Regions from separate parts of the Homo sapiens genome. Here region 1 is linked to region 2. The links come from fine-mapping of genetic effects on gene expression. Tissue or cell type: whole blood. Region 2 holds a variant in brackets; the other region holds the start of a gene. All regions are shown on one strand. Distances are between the middles of the regions.

Region 1 (5,379 bases), 35 kb after region 2:
ATTTCAGGTCAACCTGTGTGCATTCTGAGAACACAGGAACGCCAAGATCCCGGGCCAAAGCAATCACCCACCCACAGATTAATGTTAAGTATGCTCCCGCTGTGTTCAAAGTCCTTGACATACTTCTAATTAAGCAGTGGTACAGGAAAAGGGGGAGCTGAGGAAAAAACACAACAATCCATCATTATTACACAGAGGCACAGACTGTTCAAAACATACACAAAACCAGCTGGACTAGAAATGGAGGTTGCAGGCTCATAGTCCATGACCAACTGCACCAAACATAGCTAGTACCAAAATCTACGTATGTGCAAACACATTCAGATCAGCATTTACAATTTGTGATTATGAATGCTTTTAGCCAGGGCATGGCTTCTCCAAAGTAAAATACAAATTTTGTTTATTCTAACACTAATAAATATTTATAGAAACCAATTACACTAAGGAATGTCTATTTGTATTCTCCATAGGGGAAAACATTCAAATTTGTCCAAAGTTCAAATTTTCCCTTTCAAAACTTGAAAAGCCTTGAAAACATTTCAAATTATTAACTCCATTAACTAACAGTAATTAAAATTAGAGAATCCAAAGGAGTCTTTAGGAAAACAAAAAAGTGAAATAAATCAGATTGGCTCTATTTCTAGAACCCCAACCAGAAATAAATATCGAATAGTTTGTTGAACTCAAAACATTAGTGTGGATTATTTTCCAGAGTTACAAAAAGGGATCAGGGGCAGATACAGAAACTTCCGTGAGGCCAGGCACGGTGGCTCACGCCTGTAATCCCAACACTTTGGTTTGCAGAGGCCGGCGGATCACTTGAGACCAGGTGTTCAAGACCAGCCTGACCAACATGGTGAAACCCCAACTCTACTAAAAATACAAAAATTATCCAGGTATGGTGGCGCATGCCTGTAGTCCCGGCTACTCGGGAGGCTGAGACATGAGAATTGCTCGAGCCCAGGAGTAGGAGGTTGCAGTGAGCTGAGATTGCGCCACTGCACTCCAGCCGGGGAGACAAAGCAAGACTCTGTCTCAAAAAAAGAAAAAAGAAAGAAACTTCCATGAGACATTTTGAGGAAAGAAAAAAAGAAAACAAAACAAAACAAAACAAAAAAAACCCACCATGTATTTCTGCAATACTTAAAAAAAAAAAAAAACCCAAAAACTTTTCAGGGATAATGAATGCAAGACAATTCATTTCAGGGAGTAATAACTCTGATTTATAGGTAGCTTTTAATCCTCTGTTACCTTAACAAATAATGCAGTTCACTACTGGGTAGAACCTGCAAAGCCAGAGAGAAGAACCACATTAATTTCGTCAACCCTTCTGGGAAAACAACCGGGAGAAATTTACAGTGTTCAATCATTGATGATTCCCCAAATAACGGAGGGGTTGCAAAAAAAATCCGTTGAACCCATTTGAGAAATAATGCTGATCTGGACTCCGTCTACATTGTGCTGCGTGGGTCCCTCCCTGCTCCCTCCACCCCCACTCTCTCTCTGGCTTTAGAAAAGTAAAGCTGGCACAGACAAATGGCTTCGTGTTGTTGGATAGGAGGAAAAGGACACAATGACTCTTGCAGCCATCTAAGTGAGTAAGGGATTGTGAGAGCATTGAAAAGGGAGATACGAAAAGAGCTGGATGAGCTCATGCCTGCAGACCCAGACACATACACCAGCAAGCCAAAGCTTAGAGCCACATCAACAGATCCTTACGTGCTCTGAAAAGAACCTCTTTGAGAACGAGGCTACAATCTTCCGCGCTTCTAACCCAGCTTTTTGCCGAACTTTATACTCTTCCAACCAATTGACGTAGTCGGTGGGGCTGTAGTGTTTCATAAGGGAAGGCCACCTACGAGGAGAGAAACACCCCCTCAGCTTAACAGAAACTCAAAGGCAGGCGGCCACGAATCCAAGGCAGCCTTGGAAACAGGGACAGCAGTGGCGTCCAGTGGTAAGAGGGACCCCGGCGAGAGACCTAGTTCAAAACCCCACCAGCATTCACTCACTCACTCCCGGTGTGACCTTGGCGTAGCGGCATGAATGATGTCTCCATTCCCCATCTCTAAAATGGGGACAGTTGTAACAACAACAACAATAATAATAATGACAATGACAGTGAGCACTGATTGAGCGCCTCCTAGGAGCCGGGGCCCTGCGTGCGTGCCTCCCGGACATCATCTAATTTAATAAACACGGTGAAAGGTAGGTCTAATGATCACCACCACTCAAAGTCTATGAACGAGGCTCAAAAAAAGGGAAGTCGCTCCCCCCAAGGTCACAGAGGGAGTGTGCAGGGCCAGATTTCATCCTGGGGCCACGCTGAAATCTGTGCCGTCCACAACCAGCCCGGGGATGCTGCGCCCGCCCGATCGATGCATCACTGGGTCCATGTAAACATTTCAGCCCGAAGTCGGGCACAAAAGAAGCGCGCAAAAGGGACGAGCCGCGCCGCCGCCAGCGTCACCCTTGACGGAGGACCCGGCTGCGAGGCGCTCCTAGATGCGCCATTTGGGGACCCGGGGGTCCGCCTGGCGTGGCCCCGCAGGGTCCGGGGCCTGGAGGCCTTTGTCTGTCTGTCCGCGGGAAGGGGTCCGGGGTGGGGTCCGCGCGCGGGGCGGCCGCGGGGAGCTAGCGGGGCGGCTGCCCGGCCCCGGGGGGCGCGGGGCGGTGGGCGCGCAGCCGGGGCGCGGGGCCGCTGGCTCACCTCACCCGGAACTGCTCCTTCCACACCTTCCCGCTGCTCTGGCACAGCTCGCGCAGCCGCCGGCAGGTGCTGGAGACACGGCCGATGTCGGCGGCCGTCAGCGAGCCGCAGCACAGGATGTACTCCAGCACCTCACCCGGCAGGTTGACGAGGCAGCTGAGGCCCGCTACCTCCGGCGCGGCCTCCTCCGCCAGCGCCGGCACCACCTCCATCGCGCTGTCGACTGCTGCCGCCGCCATCTTGTCCGCGTACCTGGGGCCGCCGCGCGCGCGCGTGCGAGAGTGCCCGGGCGCCCCGCCTGGCCCCGCCTACTGGTCTTGGGGGCGAGTCCTGAGATCGCTCCGCCCATCCGCGGGCCACACCTCCCCTGCATCGGCTGGGGGCTGCGCGGGTGGCAGCGCCGCAAAAGGGAGGACATAATTGGGCTCTGTGCTTGGAGCCGGCAGCGCAAGCCGCCTCTAGTCCGGGACAACAATAGTAGCACTGATTCTTTTAAACGTAATTAATGTTTAAAATTAACAAATAAAAATGGTATCTATTCTCACGCGTGCTGAGCGCTTTCTGTGCGCATTGGACCTTTCCGAATTACCCTGCGAACTTTCTCCCCATATTACAGATGGGGAAACAGGTTCGGAGAGTGAGAGGGCTTGCTCAGGATCCCTTGTCTTGGATTTTTTTTCCCCCTTTGGGAAGGAGTCTTGCTCTCACCCAGGCTGGAGGGCAGTGGCGCTATCTCGGCTCACTGCAACCTCTGCCTCCTGGGTTCAAGCGATTCTCCTGCCTCAGCCTCCCGTGCGGATGGGATTACAGGCGCGCGCCACCACCCAGGTTGGAGTGCAGTGGCCGTGATCTCGGCTCACTGCAACTTCCACCTCCCTGGTTCAAGCAATTATCCTGCGTCAGCCTCCCGAGTAGCTGGGATTACAGGCGCCCGCCACCACAGCCAGCTAATTTTTGTATTTTTAGTAGAGACAGGGTTTCACCATGTTGGTCAGGCTGGTCTCGAACTCCTGACCTCAAATGATCCACCCACCTCGGCCTCCCAAAGTGCTGGGATTACAGGCGTGAGCCACCGCGCCCAGCCCCTTGTCTTGGATTCTATTTCAGATCCACTTGACTTTTGCTTGTCAGTAATCTTAACCATATGATGTAATAATAACAATATTCTTGAGTGGGTGCTATGGGAAGCCCTCTATGATGGTGTAGGGGAGTAATAATAATCCTCAAATGTGTGCCCTGATTTTAGGCTAATAGAGGGCAGGCAGAGAGCTCTCCTGTACTGGTTTCTTAATTGTTTCCAGCTCAACAATCCTTCATATTTGGGGAGCATAGTCTGACCTCCCACAATAGGTACCACAGTTATACCTATTCTACAGAAAAGGCAAAGTTCTTCCAGGTGGCAGTCACTGGTTCAAAGTTACAGAGACAAAAGTGCTAAAGCCTGGATTTGAGTCTTCAAAGCGGGAGTTATCACTCAGGATTGGGAGGGTAGTCTCAGGATCTGCACATTAAAAAAAAAAAATCAGTTTAGTTCAGTGCCAAAGCCCTGTGTTGTGTGCCCTGGGGATACAGGGGTGAGAAAAATGGAGTCTTTGCTTCAAAACCTCAAAGTGCAATTACAGTTAGAAGGATCTGTTGTCAGTACATGGAGGGTCCAATGAAGTACTCCTGGCAACTTGGAAATCAAGATGCCCTGAGAGAGCTGAACTAGTAAAGTGACTCTCAATGGATGGCGTTGAGCCATCTGTGGCTCCCTATTTCCCGTAGAAATGAATGTGACATCCCAAACATTGTTGCAAAGCAACAAACTCCACCTCTTCTTACCTATCTGAAGTCTTTCTCTCTCACTAGCCATGCATACCCCAGCAAGGCTGGTCATCTCTTTCCTCCCATTTCTGGCCCTACATATACTATTCCTGCTGCCTGCAAGGCACTTCATGCAGTCCTCCCCTTCCAGTAGCTCCTCCTCTTCCTCCAGGGCTCAGCTTAACCTTTCCAAATGCTCTCCCTTCCCCCGCCCCAGCACCAGCACCAGATATGGCTCCTGCCCAGCATTTTGCAGTCTTGTAATTACTTAACTTACAACTATTCAACATGCATCTTTCCCACTAAATCTGAAGGGAGTTCAGTGCTAGGACTGTGTCTGAGTCACCTCTAGAAGCCTAGTTACTTGACCCATGCCCTGCACAGAGCAGATTCTCAATTATCTATTGATTGCGATAGTCTAACCAGCTGTTTGACTAGGGAAGTTACTTAGCCTTTCTGAGGCCCAGTTTTTTATCTGTAAAATGGGAATAATAATTAATAATAATAATGCCTGTCTCCTGGGGCTGTCATGAGAATTAAATGAGGAAATTCATGTGAGGGGCATAGAACAGTGGCTGGTATAGAAAAAATCCTTGAGCCGGATGCGGTAGCTCACACCTGTAATCCCAGCACCTTGGGAGGCCAAGGCAGGCAGATCACCTGAGGTCAGGAGTTCGAGACCAGCCTGACCAACATGGTGAAACCCCATCTCTACAAAAATGCAAAAACTAGCCGGGCATGATGCCAGGTGCCTGTAATCCCAGCTACTTGCGAGATTGAGGCAGAAGAATCGCTTGAACCAGGGAGGTGGAGGTTGCAGTGAGCCGAGATCATGCCTTTGCACTCCAGCCTGGGTGACAGAA
Region 2 (5,379 bases):
GATATTATAAAATAATTGTTACTAGGTGTGATAATGTAATTTGGTTATGCAGAGGAATCTCCTTATACTCAGACATAATTAGGTCATGTCTGCAATATTCTTTCAAATGGTGCAGGAAAACAGTAAAATCTCTATAGATAAAGCAAATATGGGAATCATTTACTGTTGAATTGACTAGAGGGTAAATGGGGGTATTTGATGTATTCTTTTAACTGTTCCACGTGCGAGCAAGAATGATGACTTCAAAGAAGATGAACGGAAGTGGGCTGGAGTATGTCAGGCGTGGGAACCGTGCTGGGGCTGTAAGGGGAAGGCCAGATCCCTAGGGCCTGGTAAAGCATTCTGCACTGCCTGCCGATGAGAAACTCCTGATGGTCAGTCAATTCAAGCAGCAAGTGGCCCGGTCCAGGGACACGCTAGGAAGATCCTCTTGCTGTTGCTAAGGAAAATGCCCGGTTGGGGACAGGCCGGGAGGCAGGTGCCAGTTAGGAAGTAGGCAAGCAGAGACCACCAGAATGGAAATGGGAGACACATGAGGAGACAGCAGTGGGTGTGTAGACAGATGTATCGCGAGGGCAAGGGGAGAAGAGCAAGACACGGCCCCCACGTGGTGTCACTAGTGAGATGGGGCAGGCAGGAGCAAGGGGGGTATGGGGGCACAATGAGTTCATGTTTTTTCTTTCTTTACAGAGATAATCGAGTTAAAACAATGGGTTCAGTGAGTCGGGGTAACAATGTTGGAGAGAAGACCCCTGAGAGCCCTCCAAGCACACATGCCCGGGGGCTGTTACAGAGGTGGGCACGGAGCCCAGAGAAGAGCCCAGAGAACACGGCTTTGGGAGTCACCAGCACATCCACAGACACCCCAAGGGGGAAGGAGATGAAGGCCTAGAGGAGAGTCCCCTGGAGAGGGAGGACCCTGAAGACAGCCACGTATCAGGCATGCTGGGGGAGATCTGCCCCTTGGCCCAGGACTCCGAGTCCCTCAGGAAGCGCTTGCTGACACAGCGCTGATGGAGCCGCCGGCAGAAGACGGGAACTCTCATAGTGTAGGAACAGCTTTGAAGTTCTACGTTTTAAATTCAAGAAGCCAATTTGCTAACATTACCCATCATTTAGTTCCATCTCAATTTAACAGATGGTAAAACCAACAAGCAGATATTAATTTTTTCAGTAATGACAATTTTATGACTAAACCTTACATTGCATGTTTACCTAGATATGATTAGAGATCAACTTCTGAAGTGAACATATCACAACCCCTAAAACCAAATACTTAAGACCAACCCTAAACAGTGAATAATGATGCCATGTGGTAAAGCCATAGACACTGGCCCACGGTGTTGTTGAAAAGAAAATGCTCATTTATTCTTGTGAACGCCATTTGTTGTAGGCTATCAAGCGTTTACCAGGTGACTTGTGCTGGCACCAGTGGCCCAGTGAATCAGTCAATAATGTCCAAATCATGTGTTGATTTTTAGAGATTGTTTATATTCGACACAGCTTCAAAAGTTAAATAACATTACCGTTGGTGCCTCCATCTGCCACAGGGAGCACAGAAACCCCTTACACCATCCCCATCACACTGAGACAGGGCAAGCGACCTGCAGTTTCAACAAACATTTATCTTGATGCTGCTGTTCCAGGGGATCCTTTCAGTTTCTGATTAACTGACAATAATCATTATTTTCCAGCCTTTTATTTTAAGATGAGGTCTCACTCTGTCACCCAGACTGGAGTGCAGCAACACAATCAGAGCACACTGTAGCCTTCACTTCCCAGGCTCAAGTGATCCTCCCAACCCAGCTTCCTGAATAGCTGGGACCACAGGTGTACACTACTCTGCCTGGCTAATTTTTAAATTTTTTTGTAGAGATGGGGTCTTGCTGTGTTGTAGCTGGGAACACAGGTGCACATGACTCTGCCTGGTTAATTTTTAAATTGCAGAGATGAGGTCTTGCTGTGTTGCCCAGGCTGGTCTCCAACTCCTGAGCTCAAGCAATCCTCCTGCCTCACCCTCTCGAAGTGCTGGGATTATAGGTGTGAGACACCTCACCTGGCAATCTCCAGCCTTTCAGAAAGTTCTGAGGTTTTTATACATCCCATATTTTGATTATTGGATTTATCAGAACATAATATTGAGTTAGGTCAAAACTCAGACATGAGCAGGTACAGCATGATGGATGAAGAGGAGGCTCTGTCAAGCTGCCTGGCTTCAAATCGTGTTCTCTAAGTTAAAATCTCAATGGCTTCCCTGTGCCTCAGTTTCCTCACCTAGAAAATGATGATGATGATGTTTCTCAAATGGAGTTAATATACATTAGAATGATGTCCGTCACAGAATGGCACTACATTAGCATTCACATTCATTTTTATTAATAAATGTGAATTATTAATTAATCAATGTGAATGCTTTGACAGACATACACTGAATTCATCCTATTAAGTAGAGGTGAAATTCAACAGGAACAAAGAGAAGGGAGACTCACACTGAAGGCATTCTTGTCTCTTACCAGCTTCCACAGGCTCTGTCAGTCTCCACCTCAGCCTTGCCCTGGGCTGGCACCTGCCGGGGCGGCAGTGGCCCAGACGCCTACCCAACCTTACTGTACACTTGCGGGCTCTCAGGTGCTCCCAGGGCCGGCGCAGTGGGCTGCAGTTCCCACAGGTGGCCACACGAGGGCATCTCCGGCGTCAGCCGGCAGCCACAGCCTTGGGAGGCCAGGGAGCACTAGGGGGCCCCCAGGTGTTCATCCGGTTCCCTTCTAGTCTGGGAGGAGCCGAGGGCAGGGTCCAGGAGGCAGGACTTACAGGAATTTGATTGGCATAGACAGTGGCCAATCAGATGTCCGGGCTGTGGGAGCGGAGGCCCTGGGGGAGGGCGGGTATGACTACTGACCCCTCGCCAGGGCGGCACCTGTGCAGACCCAGCCACGTTTAGCTGACTGTGGGCCCGAAGGAGGCCGGCCATGGGGCGTCGGCCGCCTCTGAAGGAACCGATGGCCCACGCCCACAGTACCTACCCGAGGGCTCAAACGTGCGCTGAAAACACGCCCGCGGGGCCACTGGCACAAGCGGAACCCGCCGCTTACCTTGGGCTGCGTATCGACAGGAGCCGTCCTCCACCAGCACGTTATAGAAAGGCTGGTGGTGGCCGTGCGGCAGGCTGTGGACGTTCATGTTCCGGATCCACTCGTGTCCCATCATGCAGGTGGGGTCCCAGCCGTAGATCACACAGTTATAGCCATACCTAGTTAACACAGGAGGAGCAGTCAGTCCCTGCAGACCCGGCCGCAACAACCTCCAGACAACCGCGTGGCTTCTCAGCTCACATCCTCAGTTACCTGCTTTACTCCACGGTGAATCATTTTTCAGGACACC[C/T]CTAACCCCTTTTATAAACACCTCTTATTATCAACATAGCACTTTATCTGGAAAAGAATAAACTTTTCAACAAAAAGTGATTAGATGACAACTGGTTACCCAAAAGAAAAAGGTATGGGGACCTGGCCTGACAACAGCACACCAAATTCAATTCTCAGTACAGCAAAGACTCAGGTGTTAAATGCAGAACTTCTAAAATAGAAAGTATCTTCATGACTCAAGATAGGGAAGGTTTGTTAAAACAAGGCACTAAAAATACAGCCGTAAAGGAAAAGACTAACCAATCTGACATCACTAAAACCAAGAGACTAACAAATCCTGATCCAAACATGTAAAAATATGAGACAACTGGGGAAATAGGAACTCTCATTAGATACTGCATGAAGTTAAGGAACTGGGGTTTTCTAGATGTGATAATAAGATGTTAAATATGAAAAGACAGAGAAGGAGAGAGCACCCCTGCCTTTTAGAGGTACATACTGAAATCGCTACAGGTGAAATGGCATCTGGCACTTGCGTCAATTAACCCAGGGAGGAAGGTCTGGAGGGTGCAGGGGACAGTAAGATTCACCCCGTATGGCAGCTGTTGAGGCTGGATGACAGGAACACCACCTGGTTCCTTATAGTCCTTTCTCTCTTATAAATCTTTGCAAATTTCCATTTAAAAGTTTAAAAAAATGCAATAAAGAATGAAAACCACCAGCCAAAAACTGGGAAAAGATATTTGCAACTTATCGTCATGTAGATACTGATACACAGAAGAACAACTACATATCATATTAGGGAGGACTAATAACTCAATAGAAAAAAATACACGAAATGGGCTGGGTGTGGTGGCTCACGCCTGTAATCCTAGTACTTTGGGAGCCTGAGACGGCAGATCACTTGAGGTCAGGAGTTAGTGACGTGCCTGGCCAACATGGTGAAACCCTGTCTTTACTAAAACACAAAAAATTAGCCAGGCGTGGTGGTGTGCGCCTGTAGTCCCAGCTACCTGGGAGGCTGAGGCATGAGAGTCGCTTGAACTGGGAGGCAGAGGTTGCAGGTGAGCTGAGATACAACACTGCACTCCAGCCTGGGCAACAGACCCAGACTGTCTCCAAAGAAAAAAAAAAAAAGAAAAAAAGAAAAGAAAAATGAAATGTTTGAATAGGCGCTTAATAAAAGGAAATTTGGAACTTGGATAGCCAGTAAATATATGAAAAGAACCTTAACGTGTTTAGTAACCCAGGAAACAGAAATTAAAACCACAGTGAAACACTATTTGCCCTTTCTCAGGTAAGTACACTTTTAAAGGTCTGGCAATAGCACCAGGCGAGAATAGGAACTCCAGGCTCCCAGCCTGCTGGTGGGATGTAAACTGCTCCAATCACTTTGGATACAGTTTAATTTTGCCTGGTAAATAGACCAAGTGCCTATCGGATTTGAAGAGACTGAGATTAAGTGACAAGATATAAGAACAATGAGGAAATGAGAGAAAAAACTCGTGTCTTACAAAGTTACTTCCATGTTCTCACACACAGAGAAGGGTCAAACATCTAAAGGCCACTAAAAACACTAGAAGATCTCTCAGGAAAGTAAGCTGCTGCTTAAAAAACACAAAGGTCAAAGACACGGTTCAAAAAGAAAAAAAAAGAGGTTCAGCTTTCTGTCTTCCCCGCGGTGCGCACTCGGGGGATAAGTGATCCAGTCAGCTCCTCCTCCACTGTGTCCTGGGGGCTCACCAGGTGCATGTGTGTCTCTGCAGCCCCTCTGGAACGGACACTGCAGGACAGATGATCCCGGGCACTCACCTCTTATGCTTCATAATGAGCCCGATGGAGTAGCAGACATCTCTGTGCTTCTCATCGGAGCGCAGCTTCACCTCTACGCCCACCTCCTCCTTTTTGCGCTCAATGTGCTCTAGAGTGTGCTGCACCAGGTAGCCCACCGCCCCGTGCTGCCCCGGGTCTAGGGTTTGGATGTGCTGGAGGATGTCAAGCACCTTCAAAACAAGAC

Evidence for each region. PIP is the estimated chance that this variant, and not a neighbour inherited with it, causes the effect.
Region 1: FBXO21 starts here. The variant in region 2 is fine-mapped to the expression of FBXO21 in whole blood (TOPMed, PIP above 0.99).

What each region holds. Positions count from the first base shown.
Region 1 is chr12:117,187,508-117,192,886 of GRCh38, forward strand. It overlaps FBXO21 (F-box protein 21), which reads right to left and starts at 2,963. Exons shown (of 12, transcript NM_015002.3): 1 at 2,711-2,963; 2 at 1,720-1,855. The coding sequence starts at 2,949. RefSeq lists an enhancer at 2,090-2,179 and silencers at 2,650-2,699, 2,980-3,079, 3,120-3,179.
Region 2 is chr12:117,152,699-117,158,077 of GRCh38, forward strand. FBXO21 (F-box protein 21) reads right to left here. Exons shown (of 12, transcript NM_015002.3): 10 at 5,175-5,365; 11 at 3,093-3,250. Among named protein-coding and RNA genes, the nearest start is that of FBXO21, 35 kb to the right of the region's middle. RefSeq lists a silencer at 2,583-2,762. The variant C/T (reference allele first, on the strand shown) is at 3,382.